Regions from separate parts of the Homo sapiens genome. Here all the other regions are reported to be linked to region 3. Evidence: microRNA targets listed by miRTarBase, many of them from high-throughput screens and not tested one by one. Region 3 holds a microRNA gene; each other region holds the end of a gene's coding sequence.

Region 1 (7,926 bases), not on the chromosome of region 3:
AGCAGGGTGTTATAAAAGTGGATTAGGAGCTAAAAATGGACAGTTGGATGTTGAACCTAAATTCCAGAGGGCTGGGCAGAGAGGAGCTAAACAAATGGTAACTGTGGAAGGGAGGAAAGGAAGGGGGTAAGCAGCATTGCCCAAAGGGAGACCTCAGAGGCCCTGACCACCTGAGAACCTACTCAATAGTGGAGACACCAAAAAAAAATATTCATGTGGCACAGACCTGTTTTAGCTAGTCTTCAATTTGGTGGGGTGTCCAAGCCCACTAGACTCCAGAGTCTAGTCCCGCCTCCTACCTCACCGTCAACTTACTTTTAGCTTATAAACCTTCGTATGTGCAAGGCGCGGTGGCTCGTGCTTGTAATCCCAGCACTTTGGGAGGCCCAGGAGGGCAGATCACGAGGTCAGGAGTTAAGCCTGGCCAACATGGTGAAACCCCGTCTCTACTAAAAATACAAAAATTAGCTGGGTGTGGTGGTCTGCGCCTGTCATCCCAGCTACTTGGGAGGCTGTGGCAAGAGAATCACTTGAACCTGGGAGGTGGAGGTTGCAATGAGCGGAGATCGTGCTGTTGCACTCCAGCCTGGGCAATAGAGTGAGACTGTCTCAAAAAAAGGAAATGACAAGAGATTAATTACTTAGTGAATCTAGGGCAATGGTGGTTTGTTGTACCAGACTTTGACATTTTCTTCAGTTTGAAAATTTCCAAATTAACAAGGTAAGGAAAATCCACTTGGAAAAGGCTCTTGCTGTTTATGGTCAACTCAATTCCCATTTGTGATACAAAAACAAGCCTGCATGTTCTCTTTTTTTCTCTGGAGATGCTTGTATTTTGAAGCTTAGAGATTTACAGGGTTCTGAGCTGAATACCGAGCTGATTTTCCGTGACAGTAAAATTTGCATTTACATGCATTCATTCACCCATGCATTTAATTGTGTCAGATGCCCGTACTCCCTAACAATGAGTTTCTAATTTCTCCACCTGTACATAATTTACCAAATATAAAGAACATCCCCCAAAAGAACAAATTCACCCAGTGTTCACCCAAACTGGCTGGAATCCCCTGGTCGGTGAAGCTGCTGGGGACAAAACAACCACGACTCCAGCAAGAGATTTTCTTCCTTCTGCAGAAAGTCTGCAAAGGCTGATGAAGAGGCTTGGGAAAGGGGAGACCGCGGACGAAAAGGCCCCACCGAAGCTCGCTGCCCGCACTCCCGACCCGCCTTTTACCTGGACCCAAGCCCCCAGCGGCGCAGGTGGGAGTCTGGGAAGAAGTGCGGTGTCGGCAGGAAGTCCCAGCGCGACGTCCGGGAAAGCCACAGGAGGAGGCGACCTGCAGGAGGCTACCCTTTGACCCCAACCCTACTCTCCAGTCCTCCTAGTCTGGTGGGAGCAACCTTAGACTGGTTGATGTGGAAGGAGGCGGGCCTGCACGCGGAGTACGGCATTCACTTCCGTTTCCGGGAGCGCACTTCCGTTTCCAGGCATGAGGGCAACGGGGGAGGGGGGGGAGGTGACCTGGAATGGGCTGAGAAACAGGAGCCACGAGAGCCGCGTGGTGACGTTAGAAGGGCGCTACAGCCGCGACTTTCCAAAGCTAGTAGAGAGATCCCAGCGTCCCCCGGGAAAGGCAGAAGGGGCGGGGCGATACCAAGACGGAGACAATGGGGCGGGGCGATGCCCTGGAGGCGGGATTGCCTGTGGGAGAGCCACCCTTCAGGCCATGCAGACCCCAGGTGAAATCTGCACAGGGGTCTCCTGGAGCCGTGGGAGGGGTTCCCCTTCTTCTCCTTCAAGAGCGTTTTTATGTTGCCCTCTTTATGGATGGAAAACAGAGGCATGGACGGGCGGTGTAACTTGGCCACATTCACTAACCTAATGAAGAAGTCTCTGAAACTGGATCCTGGGTCGCTGGAGGCCTTACACCCTCCTCCAGGGACTATGATAAATATCAGTCTACAAGCAAAGAAAAACTTTGGAATTTAAAGCCCTGTGTACTGTAGTTCTTCCTATATTTTTGACAACCAAACCAGAACCTTTATATCACACACATACACACACACAAACCCTTTTTGGCATTTTCTAAATATCCGTGTGAATAAAACACCTGCCAAGACGTGGTAGGATTTAAAAGTGATTTGGGGCGGGTGTTTTATTCACGTCTGCAATCCCAGCACTTTGGGAGACCCAGATGGGAGGATTGCTTGAGCCCAGGAGTTAGAGACCAGCCTGGGCAGACCCCTGTCTCCTAAAAACATAAAAAAGTGATAGGGAATAAATGTAGAATTGCCATAGGTCATAATTTGTTTAATATAAAGCTGCTACGCTTTTAGGTCTGACAAACTTCCTCTCCCTGTGCGGTTGTTTCCTGATATAACCCACGTGTTCCTCATCTCACAGCTGCTGACTCCTATAAAAGCTAATGACCAACACCACAGTCATGTAAATAAATTCCCCCCTTCATTTTTTTCCCTAGCCAATCGACAGTCACGTGAAGAAAGACTGAAGGACAAACCCATGGTCCTTAAAAGGCACAGTCCCACAGGCCCTCTCTGTCTCTTCATCTCTCCAGTAACCTACCCACAGGTTGAGCACCATACTGTCTCTGGACTTCCTGTGGGCCATTATTCAGCACCCCTAACTTCTCTGGAATCTATAATAAACTTTTTCCTTTCATTGATTTTGGTTTCACTTTCTCATTGTGTCTCACTTGACACACTTGAACTTAACATCCTCCACCAGCTCTCCTAGAGAGTGGCTATCTCGGGCCGGACATGTTGGCTCAGGCCTGTAATCCCAGCACTCTGGGAGGCCAAGGTGAGTGGATCACCTGAGGTCAGGAGTTCAAGACCAGTGTGGCCAACATGGTGAAACCCCGTCTCTACAAAAAATATAAAAATTAGCTGGGCATGGTGGGAGATGCCTGTAATCCCAGCTGCTCGGGAGGCTGAGGCATGAGAATCACTTGAACCCAGGAGGCAGAGGTTGCAGTGAGCTGAGATTGTGCCACTGCACTCCAGCCTGGATGACAGAGCAAGACTCTTAAAATAAAAAAATTAAAAAAAAGAGTGTGGCTATATTGGCTTTTGGCCTTTCTCAAGAGAGAAACCTCAAGACCGAGTTGGAAAATAAACATTAATACTAAAAAATGATACCAACGTATGATCCAGCAATTCCACTTCTGGGTATATTAATCAAAAAGTTGAAAGCAGGTACTGGAAGAGCTATTTGTACACCCATGTTCATGGCAGCTTTATTCACAATATTGAAAAGGTGAAAGCAAATCAAACTGTGGTATAGCCATACAATAGATTATCCAGCCTTAAAAAAGGAAATTCTGAGATGTGCAGAATTTGAACATGAACATGAACATGTTCCTTGAACATGTTCCTTGATCATGAACATGAACATGAACCTTGAACATGTTACGCTAAATGAAATAAACTAGTCACAAAAAGTCAAATACTGGGACTTCACTTTTATGAGGTACCTACAGTAGTGGGGTTAACACAGACACATGTTGGAACAACTAAGTTCCTCTTCAAAGACTCAACTTTCTGATCATAAGTTATAAAAGTTGTACATCAATCCTACCCCCTTTCTTCTCTTCTGTTTCCACAAATCGCACATTTACCCTATTTGGAAAAGTTTAAGTCTTAGCCAATCGGGATCAGCTTAGATTGTGCAGTCCAATCCCAGCCAATTGGGGGACGACACAGAAACAGGAACTGCATTAAATTAAAAACTCCTTCCCTTCTTTGTTCATCGTGCTCTTGCGATCGTAACGGGCACAAGCAGCACCCTTCTGCAGAAGTAAAGGTGCCCTGCGGAGAAATTTTCTAGGGGGTTTCTTTTGGCTATGTCGAGCACTTGTTTCCAACAGAGAATTGAATGGTGTTTGCCAGAGATTGGGAAGGGAGCAGTAGGGAGTTAGTGTTTACTGGGTTCAGTTTGGGAAGATAAACATTTTTTAGTGGGATGATGGTGACAGTTGCCCAACAATGTGAGTATACTTAATGCCAGCGAAGTGGACACTTAAAATGGTTAAAATGTAAACTTTATGTAATATACTTTACCACAATTCTTAAAAAGTGAATAGAGGATTATTAGTTTTATTTAATGAAGCCTCCAAAAACCAGAGATCTGGGGCAAAAGAAATTCAAAAGCAGTTTGGCTAGCAGTGCATTTTATACAGTCTCTGCTAAATAAAATACCCACTGATAAGTAAAGGGTTTGGAATTGTATTGCTAACATTAGATTTATACATTAGAAACGTGTGTTTAAAACAGACATTCTCTATCAACTGGCAAATAAAAGATTTTTAAAGGATTAGGTTTTAAAATAAGTATTAAATTAGATGCTGCACCAAAGAATATATTGGTTTAAAAAATTGCTCAGTGCCGGGTGCAGTGGCTCATGCTTGTAATCCCAGCACTTTGGGAGGCCAAGAGGGGCAGATCATCTGAGGTCAGGAGTTCAAGACCAGTCTGGCCAACATGGCAAAACCCCATCTCTACTAAAAATACAAAAATTAGCTGGGCGTGGTGGCACGTGCCTGTAATCCCAGCTACTGAGGCGTCTGAGGCAGGAGAATCACTTGAACACGGGAGGCAGAGGTTGCAGTGAGCCAAGATCTCTCCACTGCACTCCAGCCTGGGCAACAAGAGCAAAATTCCATCTCAAGAAAAAAAAAAAAAAAAAAAAAAAAAAAAGCTCAGCTGCTGTGTCAGAGAATTAAACAATGAGTTAAAAACCTAACACTAAACAGTATTTTTAAATGTCCTCATCCTGTCCTCACCCAGATTCCAAGCATCAAGGAGTCACGCTCTTGAGGAAAGGTGCGCCTTGTCCAGGAGCTCCAGAAGCCACCTGTGCAGAAATTTCACCAGTCTCCAAGTCCTGCAGAGCAGTCACATGGCACTCCAGACCCACCCTGCAATCCACTGCCCCAAAAGTCACCATGGGGTGAACACAGCTCAACATTGGTGGAAGGTGTGGGTGCCTTAACGCATTCATTAACCAATAACTGTGGGCTTTGCTCTAGAGACAGAACTAAAGCCCCCACCCTCTTCTACTCTGTTAGTGGAGCCTGCGGTTTTTATGGGCACAGGATGAGGGCGGGGCAGGCCATGAGTGGTTTTGAAAAAGGCAACATTTGAACTGGAAAAGAAGGATGTGAAGTTATCACTTTGGGCCAATCTGAAAAGTTACGTACTGCACAATTCCAACTCTATGACATTCTGAAAAAGGCGAAACTATGGAGACAGTAAAAAGATGAGTGGTTGTCGGGCTGGGGAGAGGGAGGGAGGAATAGTGGGAGGACCGATGATCTGTGGACTTTGGGTGATAATGAAGTGGCAATGCAGGTTCATGAATTCTAACAAATGTATTACTCTGGTGGAGTATGTTGATGATGGTGGAAGCTATGCATATGTAGTGGCCGCAGGAATATAGGATGTCTTTGAACCTTCCACACTATTTTGCTGTGAACCTAAAACTGCTCTGAAACATGGATTTTTTGTTTTGAGACAGCGTCTGACTCTGTCACCCAGGCTAGAGTGCAGTGGCACAATCTCAGCTCACTGCAACCTCCTTCTGGGCTAAAATGATTCTCCTGCCTCAGCCTCCTGGGTAGCAGGGACTATAGGCATAAGCCACCATGCCCAGCTAAGTTTTGTCTTTTTTGTAGAGGCGGGGTTTCACCAGGTTACCCAGGCTGGTCTTGAACTCCTGAGCTCAAGCAATCCACTCACCTCAGCCTCTCAAAGTGCTGAGATTACAGCTCTGAGCCACTGCACCAGGTGAACACGGATATTTTAAAAGAGTAATAAAACATTTTCAATTGGTCAGAGTTTTCCAATCTGAGAAGTCAACATTATTTAGCTGAACTACCACTCTCCAAAACCTCTTACACTAATAGGATTTCTCTCTACTGCAAAACCTTACTTAAGCAATCCCTGAGATAACAGCAAAGGGCTTTCCATGTTTCACAGACTGTGTGGTCTCATTGCAAGTTACTTCCTGCTGGGTTGTGAAGAGATTCTGACAGCTTTCCCATATTTCTTACATTCACATGGCTATGAACTGTGATACAGTAAGATATGAGAAGCAAATGAAGTACTTCCTGCATCCTTTTTATAATCACAGGGTTTTACCCCAGTGTGAATTCTCACAAAGATATTAAGGCTTGAGCAATGAAATAAGGTGACACCATATCCCTGGGATACACAGGTTCTTCCTCCAATGTGAGATTTCATGTTAACATTATGGCATGTGAGATATTTAAAGGTTGCCATACATTCCCCTACATTCCCAGGACATTTGCAGTCTAATTTTATTTTATTTTTTTTGAGACAGAGTCTTGCTTTGTCACCCAGGATGGAGTGTAGGGGTCTTGGCTCACTTGCAGTCTAATTTTAGATATGTAAAATGAGCCTCGTGGAATTAGTAAAAGCTTTCCCACGTGCCTTACAGCAGAAGTGTTCTCTACACTGTGAATTTTTATTTCTCATGTAAGGTATAAACATTTAATGAAATCTCTCCACATTACTAATAATGGAGCCTCAGTCCACTCTAAGTCACTAAATGTTGGGTGAAGTCACATTTATGACTTTCATAGTAAAAGAAACTTTCTCTTCTTGATGGTCTTTGATTTTCACAGGGCCTATCACCACAAGAGTTGGAAGTGAGTATTAAGATCTGATGAGCACTTACAGACTTCTTCACATGTCCTACATTCATAGAACGTCTCTCCTGTGATTGCTTTTGTGTTTACACTAACACTAATGATAGCTAATGAACGGAAAAAATAATCACAAAAAAATTTTATTATGTTTGAAGAAAGCTTAAAAATTTGTGTTGGTCTGCATTCAAAGCCATCCTGGCCTGCGGGTTGGACAAGCTTGATCTAAAGCTTTTCCCAAGTTCCTCACAGTATTAGTTTCCTAGGGTTGCTGTACAAAATAACAGACTGAATGATTTAACCAAGAGAAATTTATTGCCTCACAGTTCTGGAGCCTGGAAGTGCAATATCAAGGTGGAGACAGGGTTGGTTTCCTCTGGAGGCCATAATGAAAGCATCTGTTCCAGGTCTCTGTCCTTGGCTTGTAGATGGCCATCTTCTGGTGGATCCACACAGTCTTCTCCATGTGTATCCTTCCTTCAGTTTCCCTTATAGGGACACCAGTGATGTCAGATTAGGGATCGAACCCAACAACCTCATTTGAAGTTACTCACCTGTTTGAAAACCCTATGTCCAAATACAGTTATAGTGTAAGGAACTAGGACTTAGGGCTTACAAATATGGAGTGGGGCATCATCCAGACCATACCATTTAAATTGCAGGGTTTCTCTCCAATGTGAGTTCACATACACACATTAAGGTTTGTGGGATTCAGAAAGGTATTCCCAGATTCTCTACATTCATACAGTTTCTCTCCAGTGAGATTTCTGATGTGTTTGGTAAGGCTTGAGAATTCAGCAAAGTCATTTCCACATTCCCTGATGCAGGGTCTTCTCCACTGTGAATTCATATGTGTTCATTAAGACCTGAGATACAAAGTTGCTTCCACATTTTTACATTCATAGGGTTTCTCCCCAGTGAGTTTTCATGTCTTCAGAGAGAACAGGGACACCTTTAGGTTTTCCCACATTCCTTATGCTGACAGTCTCTCATCCGCATGCCTTCTTTCATGATTTCGAAAGGAACTGGAAGAACTGAAGGCTTTCCCGCACTCCTTACATTCATAGGGTTTCTCTCCAGTGTGAGTTCGTTCATGTAACTGAAACGAATTGGAGTAACTGAAGGATTTCCCACACTGTTTACATTTGTAGGGTTTTTCTCCAGTGTGGATCCGCATGTGAAGGTTAACACACGTGGGAAACTTAAAAGCTTTGCCACATTCCATACACGTGAATGGTTT
Region 2 (4,000 bases), not on the chromosome of region 3:
TTAGGCTTCAGATTTCCCTCAATAAAAGTTTTAGTTTTTATACATTCTGTCATGAATTGAATGAAGTAAATAATATGCTGTTGTAAGCAAATTATCTGCAGATAAATGTCTTATGAATCGTATATCTTACTGTTTATTAAATTCTGAAGTATTGAGCAGTTTCCAATGTGAAATCCCAGCTGGCTTCTTTGCAATGATGGACAAGTTAGTTATAATTCATATGGAAATTCAAGGAACCCAGAATAGCCAAAACAATCCCGAAGAGCAAAGTTGGAGGACTCACATGCCCCAATTTCAAAACTTACTACAAAGCTACAATAATGAAGAAAGTGAGGTAATAGAATTTGGAGTCCAGAAATAAACCCTCTCACATTTATGGTCAATTGTTTTTTGACAAGGGTGCCAAGATCATTCAATGGGGGAAAGAATAGTCTTTTCAGCAAATAGTGGTGGGACAACTGGATATCCACATGCAAAAGAATGACGTTGGACTCCTATTTCACACCATATACAAAAATTAACTCAAAATGGAACAAAGATCTAACTGTAAGAGGTAGAACTATAAAACTCATAGAAGAAAACATAGGGGTAAATCTTCATGACCTTGGATTTGGCAGTGGTTTCTCAGATATGACACCAAAGGCACAAGCAAAGAGAAAAATAAATTGGACTTCATCAAATATTTAAAATTTTGTGCTTAAGAGGACTCTATCGAGAGGGTTAAAAAGATCCACAGAATGGGAGAAAATATTTGCAAATCATATCCAATAAGGGAATTAGAATATACAAAGAATTCTTAAACTCAGTAAGTTGTAAGCCGATTTAAAATGGGCAGAGGATCTGAAAAACCTTTATCCAAAGATGTACAAATGGCCAGTAAACACATGAAAAGATGCTCAACATCATTAGTCACTAGGGAAATGCAAATCAAAACCACAGTTGAGATGCAACTTCACACATTATGGGTATAGTCAAAGATGGACAGTAACAAGTGTTGCTGAGGATGTGGAGAAAGTGGAAGCCTCCTACATTGCTGGTGGAAATGTAAAATGATGCAGCCACTTGGGATAATAGTTCCTCCAAAGATTAAACAAGAGTGACTGTGTGTCCCAGCAGTTTTACTCCTAAGTATATACCCAAGATAAATGAAAACACACATCCGCACAAAAACTTATACACAAATGTTCATAGCAGCATTATTCATAATAGCTAAAGAGTGGAAACCCAAATATCCATCAATGGATGAATGGATAAATAACAATGTGCTCTTGACATGATACTGAACAATGATGTTCAGCAATAAAAAGGAGTGACAAGTGACATAGTGATACACATGTTATAACGTGGATGAACTTTAAAACACTATGCTAAGTGAAAGAAGCCAGTCACGAAATACCACATACTATATGATTTCATTTATGTAGAACGTCCAGAAGGCCAATCTACAGAGACAGTCGATTCGTGGTTGCAGAGGGCTTGGGGTGGCCGATGGGTTGGGGAGTGTTGGCTGATGGGTGCAGGATTTCTCTTTGGGGTGATAAACTTTCTAAAATTGATCTAGTGATAATGGTTGCACAACTCTGAATATACCAAAAGTCATCAAATTGTACACTTTAAATGGATACAAATTGTATGTGAACTTAATCTCAATAAAGCCGTGACAAAAGTTTCCAACATGAACTCTTATTTGGAAAGCCTTTCTCCCTGCCTCACTGTTTCCTCCTCTCCTTTTTCCCTGAACTGCACTCTCTCGACTCCTGTGTTTGATGTGCCTTAACTCTTAGGATACTGCCATTTTGTCTGACAGTCCATGTCGTGACCAAAGTTAATTCACCTTTCCAAATAAGGGTCTCTGTTCAGGCATTTCTATCCAAAATAGATTTGTCCTGTGTCCTAAGGCCAGGGATAAGTCCCCCCACCCCCCCCCCCCACCCCCAACACCCTGTGTGATGTGTTTATATTTGAGAGAAGATTGGGCGGGGAAAAGCATTTTCCGAAGTTCAAGCATACAGCATAGGGACTAGAAAGATGCTGGGTTGGATATAAAATAATTGAGCCCCCAAAGCATCAAGAAGGATGTTTGGGGCTTTTAGAAGGCTGCCTGTTCACAGAAAAGGTGAATGTGTTGTCCAGCACTGTATTAGCGCGAGTCTAGTCACTTGCCTTGGCATTTGAAAATGAAAAGTAACTCGGAAATGAGCTGCTAGCAAAGACTACCCTGTGTCTGGGGCCAGAACAGTCTTTAGAGCAGCCTCGTCCTCTGATTCCACCACCTGCTCTCCATATCCCTCTCCTGCCCCTCCCCCGTGTTAACAGCCTCTCCCAGGAAGGGGCCTGGAAACTCAGGCTGCGCTCTAAGTGGCCAATGAGGCCTCCCAATCTAAGGCGCCGCCTCCAGGAACGGAAAGCCAGGCCCATTCCTTCCCAGAGAGCTTTTCAGGAGCAGGCGCAGTTTGCGTATTGCAAGGCAGAGGGTGGAGGGTGAGAAGCTTTCAGGGAAAAAGCTACATGGTCCTTTTTATGATGTGAGTCCTTCCCACTTCCTGCGAAGCATGTAGCCAGCTAATGAGCCTCCTCTGAGTAGCCAGTGGTAGCTCCTGGGCCAGCTGTTCTCGAACTATGTTTGGTTTGCTAGGAAATGGTAGCCCTAGGTAAAGGGCAATTGTACTGTGTTGTGGTCATTTGGGGTCCCTACATATACTGAGATGTGCAGCCTGTCCTGTATGATCACCTAAATGGTGACCACAGACACGGGGAATTTGCTGGAATGGATTGCATAATGGAGCTGTGTGTATTGGGCGCTCTGGTCCCTCCCCAATCCCTGTGTTCATGAGGGTGGAAGCCCAGATCCGCCTTGAAGGTAAGAACTGTGAGCAGAGGAAACTCCCCTACCTTGGGCTTTTGGTCATTTGTCACGTATAGCCTCTCAGGGCACCGGGATTCTCACCCACCGCACTCATCCCTGCCACCCAGTCACCCTTGAGACCCTCAGCTGCCTCCCCAGGGCTCTGAAGTCCTCTTTGGCGATGATTTAGTGGAAACTTAACTAGGAGGAGCTGCTCCCTTCTGCATTCAAAGCCAGGCTTTAGGAAACTGTATGTTTCTGTCTTGAATGTGGTAAAGCAAATGAATTTTCAAATTATCAGGGCTGCTTTGTGTTCCCCTGAGACTGCACCTTTCACAGTATCACTGAGACAAAAAATGAGCAGAAAATTACCCCTGCTACTTAGGCTTTTGTAAGAAAATTCGTTTCGGGGACATTTTCTTTGTTCTGACTTTCTCTGGCCCTGAGTGGGGAATAAGTTCATTTTTATTTCATTGAAATCAGAAAGCTATATCTTAAAAAAAAAAAAATTATCTACCCAGCACTGCAGTTACAATTGCTTTGCGAAATATAGCCCTGTCCATCTCGGTGGTGTGTGAGGGGGTCCCCTACGGCCCGCTCTGTGCCAGTCACCCCCTGGCAGGCGCCGAGCTGAGGCAGGCATCAGGCACACTTGCTGACGCACTCCAGCAGCTCCATCCGGATGGCAATGCGGACGTGCCAGCCCAGCGGGATGAGGCGGATGAAGCGGGAGATGATGGGGGGCCGCAGCAGGTTCTGAACCGTGGAGGTGCGGTCCGAGTTGCCATAGAAGACCTAGAGAGATAGAGGAAATCCTGTCACCATCACATCGGGGAGGGAAAAGGAAGAAGGGTTCCTTTCTGGAGCTAGCCCCAACTTTTAACTATAGAAATGATTAGGAAGTAGTTAAAGCAGTTTGCGGGTGCCCCCCAAAATCTGACCTTGAGTGATTGTCATCACACCTACATGCTTGGGACATCTGGAACTGCACCATCCAATAGGGTGGCCACTAGCCAATATGTCTGTTTACACTTCAATTAATTAAAATTAGATAAAAATTCAGTTCCTCAGTCACATGAGCCACATTTCAAGTGGCCGCCATATTGGACAGTGCAGATGTGAACATTTCCATCACAGAAAGTTCTATTGGAGGGT
Region 3 (7,932 bases):
GGGCCCGGGGCAGACACGGATGTGTCAGTTCACTAGCCTGGGTACCCTAGCCAGGCCCCTCAGGGAGGGATGCCAGCCCCTTGGAAGAGACAGTGTGTGGGCTGACCTTTCTCCCAACACAGGGGAAGAAGAGTTCCTTGGCTGGTTACTACACCTACCCCAGCTCTTCCAGGCTGCCGCTGTTTCAGTTACCAAAAGAAGACCCCTAAGCCCAGCCAGCAGCTATTCCTCAATCACATGTCCCCCTCCTTCAGGACCATCCTGGCAAGACCCACTCCTTGGGACACGAATGATGTCTGGCCACACAGAATACATGTTTATGACTCAGACCGTCCAATTCCCTAACCAGCTATGTCCCACTGGTTCTCAACAGGGCCTCGTGGAGGCAGCCCCGACCTGGGGGAAGTGGCCTTGCTCTGGCTGGTATGTGCAGAATGCTTGTCCATGTAGACGTGCTTTATTTATGCCAAATCGTGCTTGGGGGCTTCGGGGGATCAGACTTGCTTCCTCAACAAGCTGTGACTGCAGGGGAGGGACTGGCTAATAGCAGACAATGGGTGTTATCTGGTCCACTCACTGATCCATTCGCCAGTAGGAGGAATGTCTAACTCTGCATGTGTGAGAAGTAGTGGTTTTCAAGTACAAGACTTTTTTGAACCAGTTCCAGCTTTAGAGAAGTGAGATTGGTGTAGGTTGTCCGTGTGTGGAATGTGAATGGAGGGTGGGACATGGAGCATACGCTTTGCTTGTGGAAAATGTCTCCTGGTCCTCAGAACTGAAGCCGTTTTAGCGGCACTTCCTGGAGTGATGGCACCCTTGCGAGATAGGGTTTGAGTCTGGGATTATTGGTCCTTCATTTTTTGCTATGGGAGGCATGTGTTGTCGCTATTTTAGTAAGCCTCTGCATCCACTCCACCCCAAAAATGATTTTTCTGGAAGCTGTGATCATTGTTTTTGGAGGGTGGTATTAGTGGTGGTGGTGGTGGTGGTGGTGGTGGTGGTGATGGTGGTGGTGGTGATGGTGGTGATGGTGGTATTGGTGGTGGTGGTGGTGGTGGTGGTACTGATGGTGGTGGTGGTGGTGGTGGTGGTGGTGGTGGTGGTGGTGGTGGTACTGATGGTGGTGGTGGTGGTGGTGTTGGTGGTGGTGGTGTTGGTGGTGTTGGTGGTGGTGGTTGTGATGGTGGTGGTACTGGTGGTGTTGGTGGTGGTGGTGTTGGTGGTGGTGGTGTTGGTGGTGGTGGTTGTGATGGTGGTGGTGGTGGTGGTATTGGTGGTATTGGTGGTGGTGGTGGTGGTGGTGGTACTGATGGTGGTGGTGGTGTTGGTGGTGGTGGTGTTGGTGGTGGTGGTGGTGGTGGTGGTGGTACTGGTGGTGGTGGTGGTGGTGGTGTTGGTGGTGGTGGTGTTGGTGGTGTTGGTGGTGGTGGTGGTGGTGGTGGTGGAGGGTGGTGGTGGTAGGGGCTGGTGAGCATCATGTTTTGCTACCTCTCTCAGTTGTATTTAAAGAGACATTGTTTTTGACCTGTTTGCCTATTCCTCAGTCTGTCACACCAACATGACCAGTCCTGCCGATTGAAACTTTCTGGACACAAGCTTCAGTCTCTGGAAGATTCTTGGGTGTCCTTCTCCCTCCAAGGTATGTGAAGGATGCTCCAGCCCACAGTTACATGACATTGGTCATTAGGTGCCTTGGGAGGGCTTCATGGAGGCGATGTGACTTTAGGAACCTGACAGGCTTATTTTCTTTTTGTTTTTGATATTTTTCGAATTCAAAGCATAGAATCCCTACTTTGCCTGCTTTACTTGTGGCAAATTTTTGATGTACATTCACTTTTTTTTTTTTTTTTTTTCAGAATTAAATGCTACTTTGGAAACGCTCTTGACCATGAAGCCTCCATTAGGGAAGAGACATTAGGGTTACCCCCACCCAGACGAGTGACAGCAGGGCAGACCCCAAACTTACGTTTGCCTGCATAGGAGTTCCATCTCTGGATGTGAAGAGGCCAGGGGTGGGCCCTGCGCTTCCCACGTGGGACTCGCAAAGTGCTCACCTGCTTCTGTTACCTTCTGTCTTTCATGAATCATGTTTGCGTTTGTGCTCTCCAGGGCTGTTCCCACTTTTCCCATCTAAAAGGTGGATGTTCCTTCTATGCTTACAGGATTTATGGTGAATCATAGAGGAAAATCCGCATTTTCAGTATCTAAGGCTGCTTTTAAAACATTTCTGAACATTTCTGAGAGGAAGGTTAGCTCCCTCCCCCATGCGGAGAGTGATGGAAGGTGAATCCCAGAACCTAAGCTCTTGTTAGCAAGGTCTGTCCTGGGACATGCGTCCTCCGCAGGGCCCATGTCACTGCCGCTAGCCCGGGAGGCCCCTGCCGACTGCACCTATCCTGTGCTGTCTTTAATTTTGATAGATTGTGCTTAGGTTCATGCTTTCCAGGACTCAATCCTTCTTTGGTATTTAAAAGGTGGATATTCCTTCTATGTTTATGTTATTTATGGTTAAACATAGAGGAAATTCCACGTTTTCAGTATCAAATGCTGCTTGGAAACATTCCTGGACTGAAACCACCATCAGGGAAGAGACAATAAAGTCCCCCCCCCCACTCCAGGGTAAGTGGAAAGTCGGTGGACCTCAGAACATGTGCTGAATTCGTGCCATATGTCTGCGGACCACCCACCCGCCTTGAGGAGACCCCTCTCGCAAGCTGCCCGCTCGGCCAAGCGGCTGGGCTCCGTCGTCATTTTCTCCATGAGGCCGAATGCTCTCCTCTGTGCTATGTTACTTTTGTGTTTGATGGATTGTACTTAGGTTCGTGCTTTCCGGGATGAAACCTTCTTTGGTATTTAAAAGGTAGATTTTCCTTCTATGGTTACGTGTTTGATGGTTAATCATAGAGGAAAATCCACGTTTTCAGTATCAAATGCTGCCTTGGGATCATGGCTGGACTGAAGCCACCATCAGGGACGTGAGGTGGGGCTGAGCCCTCCAGGGTAAGTGGAAAGATGGTGGGCCGCAGAACATGTGCTGAGTTCGTGCCATATGTCTGCTGACCATCACCTTTAGAAGCCCCCTTTCGCTGAGGAGCCAGCTTGGTGCACAGGCTGTGGTGTGTTGTCACAGCTATGCTACGGGACTGAAAACGGTTGCTTTACTGTCTTGCTTCCATTTTCCATGAACTGTGTTCAGATTTGTCCTTTCCAGAGCCCAGTCCTTCTTTGGTATTTAAAACGTGGATATTCCTTCTATGTTTACGTGATTCCTGGTTAATCATAGAGGAAAATCCATGTTTTCAGTATCAAATGCTGCTTTGGAAATGTTTCTGGAAGAGACCGTAGGGCCTGAGTAGGTGCAAAGATGGTAGGCCGCACGTCGTATCTGAATGAACGGGGTATGCCCGAGAACCATCTCGAGACGCCAACTTGGTGAAGATTAAATTGTGGGTCTCGTGGTGCCAGTTCTTCCCTGGAAGCTCGTCTGCCTCATGTGACTTTCTTTTCTGATGACTCAAGCACAGGTGCACGCTTTCCTGGATGGAATCCTTCTTTGGTATTTAAAAGGTAGATTCTCCTTCTATGAGTACATTATTTATGATTAATCATAGAGGAAAATCCACGTTTTCAGTATCAAATGCTGCTTTGAAAACCTCGGAGGACGTGAAGTCGCCATGGAAGAGGAGATGTTATCTGTACCCCTCCTGGGTACAGGACGGACAGACACAGAATTGTACTTTGTATGAAATACGCCGTCAGCTTCTCTGCTGTTTGCTCACTGCCCTTGGTGCACACATAATGTGTTGTTACAAGGCTGTGTTCTCAGTATTGCCTCATTGACCTTGAATGAAGTTTGTTCTCTGTATGTTTACCATGATTGCAATGCATTTTCTGGAATGAACCTCTTTTACTGTGACTAGTTGTACCTTAGAGAATACCTGAGTGGGCTGTCAATTTCAGGAAGGGGCACTGCTTCAGGGGCTATGGAAGGAATAGATGTGTGATTCACCCACGGGCCTGCACTTCACACCTCGGTGTGCTGCTCTCACCATGCAGATCCCATCTGTGTCTCTAAGGCTTGCTCCTGGAGCTGGTGGCAACTTAGTCACAGAGGAAATGGCCTTCCTGTCACTGCCATCATTTGCTACTTGAAGAGAGGTAATCCTTCACGCATTTGCTTTACTTGCAATGATTATACAAGGGCAGACTCTCTCTGGGGAGCAAATCCTGCCTGGGAAGCCTTCTTGGGAACAAGGCTGACTCCAGCAACCTGTTAGATGGCCAGGATAGCCCTGGGGTGTGGATGGTTGACCACAGGGCATGTGCCTCTGTCTTGCTGTTTGTGACCTGGTTCTCTGACCCTCCTCATCTCATGCTTCCTTCCAAGAACTTTCTGGAAGAGATGCTGGCTTTGGAGATGATATAGGGTTTTCTCTTCAGACCACCTGTTCTGCCTAGCAAAAAGGGCCTACCTTGGCCGGGCACGGTGGCTCACGCTTGTAACCCCAGCCCTTTGGGAGGCTGAGACGGTGGATGGCTTAAGCCCAGGAGTTCGAAACTAGCGTGGGCAACTTGGCGAAACCCCATCTCTGCAAAAAATACAAAAATTAGCTGGGTGTCATGGTGTGCGCCTGTGGTCCCAGTACTTAGGAGGTTGAGGCTGGAGGATCACTTGAGCCCGGGAGTTGGGAGGTTGTAGTGAGCCAAGATTGTGCCACTGCACTTCAGCCTGGCTGACAGAGACCCCTGTCTCAACACAATAGGTTAAAAAAAAAAGAAAAGAACAAAGGGCCTCCCTTGATGGGCCCTACTTATCACAAAGCATCCATGGGCTGCTACTCCGGCAGGTCTGCCCAGCATGATGCCAGCCTCTGAGAAGAGGTCTCGTGGTCAGTGCATCTCCCAGATACATGAAAGAATGACCGTCAGCAAAGTCAATGTCTAATGTAGATGTGGGTCATCTGGTCTACCCACTCTCCATACCTAGCCCATCCTTGGAGTGACTTTTGGACCTCACTGTCCACTTGAGGGAAGGCCAGTCCACAGGAAGGAGGCCCCAGAGCACCCAGTGTGGCTACAGGACTTGCTGCTGGGACCTCTAAGCCCCACTGCTCTCTTAGTCCATTGGTGTCCTTTAGGGATTCTTGCCAATGGAAAGACCCTTGGATTCCTGGTGTTAGCATGTGTTTATTCAGAGAGAGTTGGCCCATGAGAATCTCATTTTCCTTTGACGAATCTTGCCCTAGATGAATACTTCTGAGTAACAACTAACTGCTCAGATGGCTTTCTGAATACAATGCCAAATTCAGGAGAAGGGACACTTGTCATAGTGCTGCTTTGTGATTTGCAAACGGAGTGCGTTGGATTTCTGTTTCTCTTTTTTCTTTAATGATGCATGTGACTGCATCTTCTAACCTCCCTTAGCCAGTGTTCACCAGGAGGGCTTCCTGGAGGCAGTGGCTTTGGGCAGAGGCAGAGGTTCTTCTCCCAGGGTGTTTTTGCAGGCCCTAAAGGGATTTCAGCCATTTTACATTTACATTATTTCAAATGGTACAGGATTGCCTGTCTTTTGGTAACCAATCCTGTCGTGAAGAGATGCTGGGAAGTAAAGTCAACTGTATGGCAGGCCCCAGCTCCAGGGCCAGCCAGATGAGGCTTGTCACCTGGCCCCTCCCCCTTGGTCTCAGGCCTCGCAGGAGGAGATGTCCACTCCGGCGAAGACCCGGCATAGTCCTCACCTGCTCTTTGAGCCACTCTTTGGTACTTGAAGAGAGGATACCCTTTGTATGTTCACTTGATTAATGGCGAATATACAGGGGGAGACTCTTATTTGCGTATCAAACTCTGTCGAGGAAGACGCTCAGACCCTGCTGTCTCCAGGACAAAGCCTCGGATGTCAGCCCCTCTCAGGTACGGCTTGGCTTCCCTGTCTGGGAACGTGAGCTTGGCTGTGATCCTAGCCCTTGGGTTCTGCCTTCGCTCTCTGTGCTGGTTCTTCCTGTGGACTCCCTGGAGGCAGTGGGAGAGGAGGGTCCTTTTTGTGTGCACTGAGTTTAATGGTGGTTTGCTTTTTTTAAGGATAAATCACATGGATCTGCCTCTTCTCCATACCAAGTCATACCCAGAGGGCTTCCTGCGTCCAGCACTAACCTCGCACCTCTCCGGACACACGAATGGGTGGTGGATGGTGGAGCGCAGAGCTGATGCTGCTTCTCACCTGCTACTCCCCTGACCTGCCACTCCCTGGTGGTCTCCATCCTTGAGAGAGTGTCAGCCTTGAGGGAAGCACATGGATGTCAGGTTGTTCTAAGGCAAGTTACTGGTGGAGCTCCCTGAGCCTGCCTGTGCCCTCTGGGACTGTCGCTGGACTCCAATGGCCAGTCCTCGGAGCACATTGTCCAGTGATTGCACCTGAGTGTGCCTTGGGCAGGTGTGTCTGGTCTTCAGGACTCCTTTGTCGCTAGAGTCTGACGCTGGGGCCCTCTTTTTGTTTGTTTCGAGGTAGGTACAGGTGACACATTCTTGGATCTGGTCATCTCTAGGACAACCAGCCTCAGAGGAGAGACATTGTCTCAGCGCTCTCCAGCTCTGAGAATGCCTGCAGATGCCTTCTTCTCTGATAACTCCATGTCTTGCCGGGCTGAGCCCTCACACCCTGTGCCCCTTTGGAGAAAGGTGATGGTTCCATTGTCCATGTAGCTTGTGGGTATTTGAAGCAGGTTCACCCATGCATGCTGAGCACACTGATAGTCATGCCTACCTGTTCCCTTGTTTAGAAGCCAGTCTCGCCTGCAGGGAGTCCTGGATGTGCCACCTTTCGGGGCCAGGCCACAATGTGCAAGGTGCAGGCCCAGCTCCAGGGTCAGCCAGATGAGGCTTGTCACCGGGCCCCTCCCCCTTGGTCTCAGGCCTCGCAGGAGGAGATGTCCACTCCGGCAAAGACCCGGCATGGTCCTCACCTGCTCTTTGAGCCACCCTTTGGTACTTAAAGAGAGGATACCCTTTGTATGTTCACTTGATTAATGGCGAATATACAGGGGGAGACTCTCATTTGCGTATCAAACTGTCGGAGAAGACACTCATACCCTGCTTGTCTCCAGGACAAAGCCTCGGATGTCAGCCCCTCTCAGGTATGGCCTGGCTTCCATGTCCGGGAACGTGAGGTTGGCTGTGACGCTGCCCCTGGGTTCTGCCTTCGCCCTCTATGCTGGTTCTTCCTGTGGACTCCCTGGAAGCAGTGGGAGAGGAGGGACCTTTTTGTGTGCTCCAAGTTTAATGGTGGTTTGCTTTTTTAAGGATAAATCACACATTGATCTGCCTCTTCTTGGTACCAAGTCATACACAGAAGGCTTCCTGTTCCCAGCATCAGCCTTAGAAGGGGGACCTGGATGTTGGATCATTTCAAGGGGAACACAGACAGCAGTGATGGTGGACCACGGAGCACTGGCTCTGTCTATGCTGTTTTCGAGCCTGGTAGGCCAGCCCCAGGAGGGCTTCCTGGAGGTGGTATTGACCTTGGGGAAGGGGCTGAGGTGTGCTCATCAGCGCTTTTTTTTTTTGATGCTTGGGTGTTCATGATCCAGCTCGCAGTCCCCAGGCTGAATCTGTAAGAATGGTTTGCTTCTATTTGTCATTTGTGATTGCCCATGAAGGCAGCGCTGGGGATGAGCCGTGGGAGCTGTCAGCCCCGCACCAGGTGCGTGCATGTGGGAGGTCAGAGGGCGCCTGCTTCTGCCTCGATGTCTGTGCCCCGTCTCTGACTGCTGGCTTTCTGCTCACACCTAGGATGGCTGCCTGAGAATGGGACTCTTGTTCTGTGTTTGTGGAGACACTCCTTGGGCCGTGTGACTGCCGGCTTTTTACACCCCGACTGCCATGGGGGTCATCTGGACCCGAAGCCAGCTTCAGGAAGGACATTCGCAGCATCCTCAG
Region 4 (7,692 bases), not on the chromosome of region 3:
TTCATGTGTTTTCCTGAGACATGTTGTCTCTTTCCCTACCCTAGTCTTTGATTTTCTTTCAATTGTAAATTTGGAAAAATTTTTTAAAATAAGAGAATACGGTAATCCCCACAATTATTTACTAGAGACCATATCTAAGCATGCGGGATTCCCAGGTACTCTTGTATACATTTGTCTGATATTTCAACTATTATAGAATGTCAAAGTTGTAAGGAACAATAGACATCATTTTATCCAGGTCTTGTTTTATCAGTGGAGAACCTGGGAAGTTTGGCACCTCGTAAATGATCACACAGTGAGATAGATAATAGCAGCGTTGGCAATAGAATCTGGGTATTTAGACTCCTGGGTCCAGAGTTCTTTTTATTCTCTATATTTTGTAGAATGCCTTTTTTGTTAATAATCTGCATATCCACAAATAATGAAAAATAAACCTCTTTCTAGCAACTATTTTCTTCTAAGTGTATGTTTGAAGATCCCTAGCATAGGTACTGTGACATTTTAGTAACACAGTAGTGAATATGGCTGTGTGAAAAGGACTCCATATGATTGTGTTTTGTTACAGACATATAGCCATGAAGTCTACTTTGACAGAGACTTGGTGCTACACATAGAGCAGAAACCCAACAGAGTCTTCAGCTGCTATGTTTACCAGATGATATGTGACACTGGGGAAGAAGAAGAAACCATAAACAGAAGCTGTTAAAAAGAGTGAGATAATTGTAACCTAAGAGACTTTTAGCCAAACACCCCAGCAGCTGCGTCCAATCCATTTTATTATCTGCATGGCACATTCTCCAGTATTTTCCAAAAAAGTCTTGTGTTGACTTCAGATGACTATGACTTCTTTTTTAAACTCTTGCTGTAAAAGATGGTGAGGACTTCATTTTTTTTAAAGGTTTTTTAGAATACTGTTCCAAGAAGTTTAGTGTTTTGCAGCTTTGAGCTAGGTGGTAATGCAAATATAAAATGCTGGGAACAGAAAAGGACAGGTTAATTCCAATTGTTGAGGAGTTAAGTCATTGATGGGGTGGGTCATTGATGAGTTCTTAAAGGATGGTATGGAATTTTGTTTGTTAAGGCTAGGAAAGACAGGGAGAGACAAAAGTAAACATGCAGAAAGAAATCTTATATCCTCTATACCAAACTTTGCTTAAGGATGAGAAATGAGATGTGTTATGTGAGAACATTATTTTGAGCCCAAAATGTGTCATCACAGTTTTTAAAAATCTTATATATGTATTTATATGTGTTTCGTATTTGTATATAGTATCAGGAATTGGTTCTAGTTCCCAAATTATCTTTTCTTCCTTGGTTTTGTTCTCTTGGCTTGATGTTCACATTGAATATTTGTGTTTCTATATAGGCTAATGTAAAAGATTCCAAGCAAACCTTAAGTGAAATTGTTTTCTGATTTGCATCCTGTTTAGCTCTTAATGTATCTAAGGATGTTCTCATCTCACCATTCTACTCATTTAGTGAGTTTTCTGATCTTGTTTAGGCAATATTTGCATACTTATGCAATAAGATAAAGGTACCCTTGCCTGCAGTAGTTCTGTTTCCTGTAGAAAAGTGGATAAAGAGTCCCAGAAGAAGTTCTTACTAGCTTGGGAGTTACCTGATTAACCAGAGAAAATTTTTGGCTTACTTATGGAACAAGCATTATTTCTTCTTTGTTAGGAAAGATCTAAATATGGTCCTTGACTTTTAATAATCATTCTTTAGAATGTTAAATAAAGGCAACCCAAGTAAAGGGAGAAAATGTTTCTTTGTGCTTCCTGTTTGAGAAATTCAGTTGCTTCCATTTCGCATGTTCTGCACATTTATCCGATGTAACCTCAAAAGAATAACTGGTAATAAGGGAAGGAAACAGCAGCAACAATCATTGCTGATTCAAGTTTAAGGTTAAAATATGGAATTTTTAGCTTGGATGATTTATATTAAAATCTTTCCATTTTTTTTTTCAGTTTTGGCTTGATGCCATGTTAAGAATGATGTGAATTCTTCCCAGTTCTGCCCTGGTGCTAGACATTGCCCCATACTTTCAATTAGACACTAGCTGTATCTAAATAGTCCCACTCAGTAAACTTACATCTTGAAAAACAAGACCAGTAAGAGGCCAGTGAAAGTACTAAAGAAAGAAACCAATGTTGTGTGAGTTTCAAAGCAGCTGCAATGCTGTGTAAAAGTAGAGTGTTCATTCTCCATTTCCAAGAGTGTTTCAGAATAGGATGTCTTAAGACTTCAGTCATGTCAGAGATTTTTTTTTTTAGGTGATTATTGAGTTTCTCCTTCTCCTTTAAGTCATCACCTTCCTTTTATGAAATGATAGTAAGGAACTCGTCTATTCTGAAAGGCATTTGAGAAATAGCTGAATTCCTGGCTGCTTTTTTGCTGGGGGTAGATGGTGGAATACTTCTGGTCTAGATATAACTTACCACTAAGAAACCCCCAGTATGTCACCACTGCCTAAATCTAACTAGACCAGGGTCCAAATGCCATCCAGGCCAGGCAGGAAATATACCTCATGTGAAAGACAGTAAGGAGTTGTGGGCAGTGTAACAAACAGGAGAGCTATGCCCCAACTAAAAGGAGCAGCTGCTACTGCTTAGTTTCAGCCAGTTGCAACAGTATGTGGGAATGTAGGCTGCATGGTTGTTAACAAGATAGATGGTAAAAAGATGCCAGAAGATACAGAAGATAGCAAAGAATGTGGGGAATTTGGATACCACACATAGCGAGAGACAATGAAGCATGCTTCCCAGCTCGCCAGAGTGTCACACAGCTGCTCATTCTGCCACCTGCCAGACATTAATGTCTTCCTGCCCTACCTAAACCCCCTCTTTACCTGATATTTTAATTCGAGACTCTAGCTACATGCCCACCTACTTAACAGGTACTAGTGACAGGTACAAAACATTATGGGTAACAATTCTGAGTGTTTAATGCAAGCCCAGGTGAAGCAGGGTAGCTTCCATCAGCAGGTACAGACGTTACGCTGAAAAGAGGTGCATTCTGCATTGCACTCCTGGATCTAAGTTTCTGCATTCTCAGAGCATCAATGCAGCAAGCTTATTGTTCCTCAATTTTTTACAATATTTATCACAACTCTGGGAGAAAACAAAACAAATCCTATCCTATTTACTATTTGTGCTACCTAGTGAGGAGATACCGCTCTGTTTAGACAAATTAAGGCACTTCACATTCTTCCACCAATTGAAAGTTTTGTATCTTACAGTTCTTTTTTTAAATAATATATTTATTGAGCACTTTCTATCTACTAGTCACTGTGATACAGTATAAGTAAAGTGGGTTGTCTCATTTAATATTCAGAATAACCACATGAAGTATGAACTGCCATTATCTTTCCCCTTTGTACAAATGAGGAAAGTGAGGCTCACAGAAGTTAATTGGCCCAGGGTCCCACAACTAGTCAGTGCAGAGGTGGGAAACATAACCAGATTTGTTCGGCATGAACTTGTGCCAAATTTCCTCCAAAGTTCTCAAAAGGCAAGGCATGTTATTTTATCCCAATTTAGCATACCAACAACTATAATACTAGATATGTAGGAAAGTGCTTAATAATCGTTTTTTACTGATGATTCAGTGTCTAAATTTTGAACAAATTTGGGTAAGATACAAGTCACACATAAATTGACAGAAAATGTAGTTCTTCATTCAATGGTTAGCAGTCATTAAAAGGTACTTTCCCTTTGTTTGTGGTGATAATCAGTATTAGTAGTTTTCATATTATTTGGCTTCCATATTAATCATTTTTATATTTTCTTCTCCTTCTTACCATGTTTACTTATATCATCCATCTTTTAGAATCCCAGGGAGCTAATTTCTGGTCCCTGTGTTGCTATCAAATCTGTATCTTGCAGAAAGAATAATTTATTTCAAACAAGGGACATACAATAGAAAGATAAGACCTACTGAGGTCTTTTTCCCATCATTTTATTATGAAAAATGTTCAAACATACAGTAAAATTGAAAGAATTTTATAGTAAATACTGACCACGGGGATTCTACATCTTACTCTACTTGTTTTATTATTTTCCTATCCAGCGTACTTTTTGATGGATTTCAAAATAAATTGCAGTTGCTGATATACTTCCCCCTAGTACTTCAACTGCAGATTATTAACTAGAGTTTAGTATTTATTTAGTTTTTAAATTTTTTTGATTTAAGATTTACCTGCAATAAAATGTACAAATCTTAAGTATAAATTTACTGAGTTCTTGCAGACATATACACCTGTGTAACCCAAACCCTTTCCAAAATTTAGACCATTGCAATCATCTTCAGAAAGTTTCCTAAATCCCTCTCCCAGTCTATCCCCTCCCCACCCCTCAGGTATAACTACTGTTCTCATTCTTTTATATCAAAGGTTAAATTTACCTGTTCTAAACTTCATATGAGTGAAATTATACAAAATGTAATGCTTCTTTCACTTAGCATAATGTTTTTGAGATTTATTCATGTTGTTGCATGTGTCAGTGATTCATTTCTTTTTATTGCTGAGTATTCTTTCGTATGAATATATCACAGTTTGTTTTTTTATCTTTCTGTTGATGGACACTGGGCTCTTTCTGCTTGTTTTTTACTGTTATGAATAAAGCTGCTATGAACATTCTTAGACAATTCTTTTGTGAACATGTGTCTTTATTTCTCTTGGGTAAATACCTGGGGATGGAATTTTCGGGTCCTTGGGTAGGTGTATATTTAGTTTAATAAGAAACTGCCAGACCTTTTCCCCAAAGGATTGTACGATTTTACATGCTTGCAGCAATGTAGGAGACTTCCACTTGCTCCACACATTCTCCAGCATGTGTGGTTGTTAGTCTTCTTTATCTTAGTATTTATGCTGGGTGTGTAATCATTTCTAGTTGATACTCAGATTGTTTCTACTTGTGGTTAGCAACCCTCTTGTCAACTTGACCTCCTTCCTTCCCCAGGAACTGCTGAAAACATCCTTTGTGATAATAGTTAAGATACCCCAAAACTCAGCTTGAATTATTCTTTCTCAAACATGGGATACATTGCTCATCAAAGAACCCTGATTCCTTTAATGGAGATCATAGTTGGGAACAACCTGGGTTCTAAGGGCACGTGTTCCACCGTTTCACATGACTACTGGAGCTGGACAAAATGGCACTGGAGAAGAGGTCACAACAATCATTATAATAAAAGCAGAAAGGTGACTTTTTTCTTCAAAAGTTGAGTTCGTGTTATCATGTACATGATAACAGGTGAAATCAGGTGAATTTTTTTTCTCTAATATGAGAGCATATTAAACAAGCTGTATCCTTTTCTCACTAACTGTAGTATTCTAGGCCGGATATGTTGTGATAGCAAATTAGTATATTCAAATTTTAGAGGTGCACAAAATTTCAGAAGTATTTATTTATTTATACTCTTTTTGACTCTCAATTCAAGTGTCTTAGAATTTGTGCCAAAGTTTGCAGGTTCAGTTCCTTTCCTCATTATAACCTGAGTCCTATAGAAGGGTGAAGGTGGAAAGGAGGGGGACACTCAGCCTCCTATATAGGCACATTAAAAAACACCATGCTGTGAACACTAAGCTCTCAGATAGAACCCACTGAGATTAACAGACAATAGCAAGGAAAGGGAGGATTGAGATCAGCAATAGCCTGTAATATTTGTCTGATACTCTCCTTTAATTCTTTGTTTTCATGAATACAAGTGTTATTCCTGATTAGAGACAACATTGAATTTTAGTTTCATAAAGAATTTTGGCTACACTTTTTTTCTCAGAAAAACCAACTTTGCAAAGGTGGTAAATCCAATAAAAAGATGTCAGCAAATAAAATCAAATTATTAGAATTATCAGAGATCTTTAAATTTTCTTTATAGACTTATTAAAGTATAATTGACGTGCAGTAAACACTTTTTTTTGAGACAGAATCTCGCTCTGTCACCCAGGCTGGAGTGCAGCAGCACGATCTCAGCTCACTGCAACCTCTGCCTCTCGGGTTCAAGTGATCCTCCCACTTCAGCCTCCAGAGTAGCTGGGAGTATAGGCACCACCACACCCAGCTTATTTTTGTATTTTTAGGAGAGATGTGGTTTCACCATGTTGGCAAGGCTGGTCTCGAACTCCTGACCTCAACTGATCTGCCTGCCTGGGCCTTCCAAAGTAAACTGCATGTATTTAAAGTACACAATTTGATAAGTTTTGCCATGAAACTATCACCACAATCAAGATAAAGGACATACCCATTACCCAAAAAGTTTTTTTTCCTGCACCTTTGTGATCCCTCCCTTCTGCCCCTCTGTCCCCACTTCCCAAGACAACCTCGGATCTGTTTCTGTAACTTCAGGTTAGTTTGTGTTTTCTAGAATTGTATATAAATGAAATAGTAAGTATTTTTATTTGCTGGCTGCTTTCATTCAGTACAGTTATTTGGAGATTCATCTGTATTGCATGTATCAATAGATCATTCCTTTTTATTGTGGAGTAATCTCCATTGTATGGATATGTCTACAGTTTGTTTATACTGTGGCCTTTCGATGGACATTTCAGTTGTTTCCAGTTTGGGCTACTACAAATGAAGCTACGAGGTATAATTGTATGGACATACGCTTTATGTTGGGTAAATACTGAGGAGGGAATGGCTGGCTCCTATGTTAGGTGTATGCTTAACTTTTTAAGAAGTTTCCAAACTGGTTTTCCAAAATGGCTGTACCACTTCATATTCCCATTATCAGTATATGAGAGTTCTAGTTGCTTCATATCTTTGCCAGCACTTGATATGGCCAATCTTTTTAATTGTGTATGGGTGTGTATATATATATATTACATATATGAAATTGTTTTTATGATCTCAGGACCCTGGATTTTTTTTTTAATTTTAGACATTCTAATAGGTAGTAGCATCTCAATGTGGTTTAAATTTACATTTCCCTTTTGACCAATAATGATAAGCACATTTTCATGTTTATTTGTTGTGTGTATATCTTTTTGATGACATAGTGAAATCTTCTGTACTTATTTTTCTTTATTTATTTTGAGACGGAGTCTCGTTTTGTCACCCAGGCTGGAGTGCGGTGGCTCAATCTCAGCTCATTCCAGCCTCCGCCTCCCGGATTCAAGAGATTCTCGTGCCTCAGCCTCCCAAGTAGCTGGGACAACAGGTGTGCACCATCATGCCCAGCTAATTTTGTATTTCTAGTAGAGATGGGGTTTCACCATGTTGGCCAAGCTGGTCTCAAACTCCTGACCTCAAGTGATCCACTCACCTTGGCCTCCCAAAGTGCTGGGATTACAGGTGCCTAGCCAAAATCTTCTGCACTTAAAATAGAAAGAGAGAGAGAGACTTACTATGTTATGTTGCCCAGGCTGTTCTCAGACTCCTGGGCTCAAGCAATTCTCCCACCTCAGTCTCCCGAAGTGCTGAGATTACAGGTGTGAGCCACTGCACCCGGCCAAAGACACAAATACTAACAGACTCAAATTATTTTCTTCCCAGGACTTACAACCTTGGAGAAGCTCTGGGCATGTTGCCAGCCTCTCCCAGTCTTATCTCAGTTCAGAAGGATCATATACTGAATAAAATTATATCAGAAATACTTCATATCTAAAGTAGTATATCTAAATTATGTCTAAAGTTAGTTAATACCTGCTCTGACCTAGTTAATGCCTTGAACCTATTTTAGTTCAATGTACTT

The links. Region 3 holds the annotated microRNA hsa-miR-376b-3p (AUCAUAGAGGAAAAUCCAUGUU, at 3,277-3,298, shown strand). A microRNA usually pairs through its seed, bases 2 to 8, with sites in the 3' UTR of a target mRNA and lowers its output. Matches are read on the target gene's strand: a 7mer-m8 pairs with bases 2 to 8, a 7mer-A1 pairs with bases 2 to 7 and ends in A, and an 8mer does both.
Region 1: the mRNA of ZNF266 is a reported target of hsa-miR-376b-3p. Seed matches in the 3' UTR shown: 7mer-A1 at 7,585-7,591.
Region 2: the mRNA of RS1 is a reported target of hsa-miR-376b-3p. Seed matches in the 3' UTR shown: 7mer-A1 at 1,185-1,191.
Region 4: the mRNA of DCAF17 is a reported target of hsa-miR-376b-3p. Seed matches in the 3' UTR shown: 7mer-A1 at 4,625-4,631.

Annotation. Positions count from the first base shown.
Region 1 is chr19:9,405,616-9,413,541 of GRCh38, forward strand. ZNF266 (zinc finger protein 266) reads right to left here. Exons shown (of 11, transcript NM_001370374.1): 11 at 6,814-7,926. The coding sequence ends at 7,660. LOC112268250 (a long non-coding RNA gene) reads right to left here and starts at 1,445. Exons shown (of 3, transcript XR_002958434.2): 1 at 1,235-1,445.
Region 2 is chrX:18,638,517-18,642,516 of GRCh38, forward strand. It overlaps RS1 (retinoschisin 1), which reads right to left. Exons shown (of 6, transcript NM_000330.4): 6 at 1,172-3,640. The coding sequence ends at 3,488. CDKL5 (cyclin dependent kinase like 5) reads left to right here. Exons shown (of 18, transcript NM_001323289.2): 18 at 1-1,680. Among named protein-coding and RNA genes, the nearest start is that of RS1, 32 kb to the right of the region's middle. RefSeq lists a silencer at 2,148-2,317.
Region 3 is chr14:101,037,221-101,045,152 of GRCh38, forward strand. MIR376B (microRNA 376b) reads left to right here and starts at 3,216; the gene lies at 3,216-3,315. It overlaps MIR376C (microRNA 376c), which reads left to right and starts at 2,470; the gene lies at 2,470-2,535. MIR376A2 (microRNA 376a-2) reads left to right here and starts at 2,849; the gene lies at 2,849-2,928. It overlaps MIR654 (microRNA 654), which reads left to right and starts at 2,999; the gene lies at 2,999-3,079. It also overlaps MIR376A1, MIR300, MIR1185-1 and MIR1185-2.
Region 4 is chr2:171,480,409-171,488,100 of GRCh38, forward strand. It overlaps DCAF17 (DDB1 and CUL4 associated factor 17), which reads left to right. Exons shown (of 14, transcript NM_025000.4): 14 at 566-4,644. The coding sequence ends at 706. Among named protein-coding and RNA genes, the nearest start is that of CYBRD1, 38 kb to the right of the region's middle.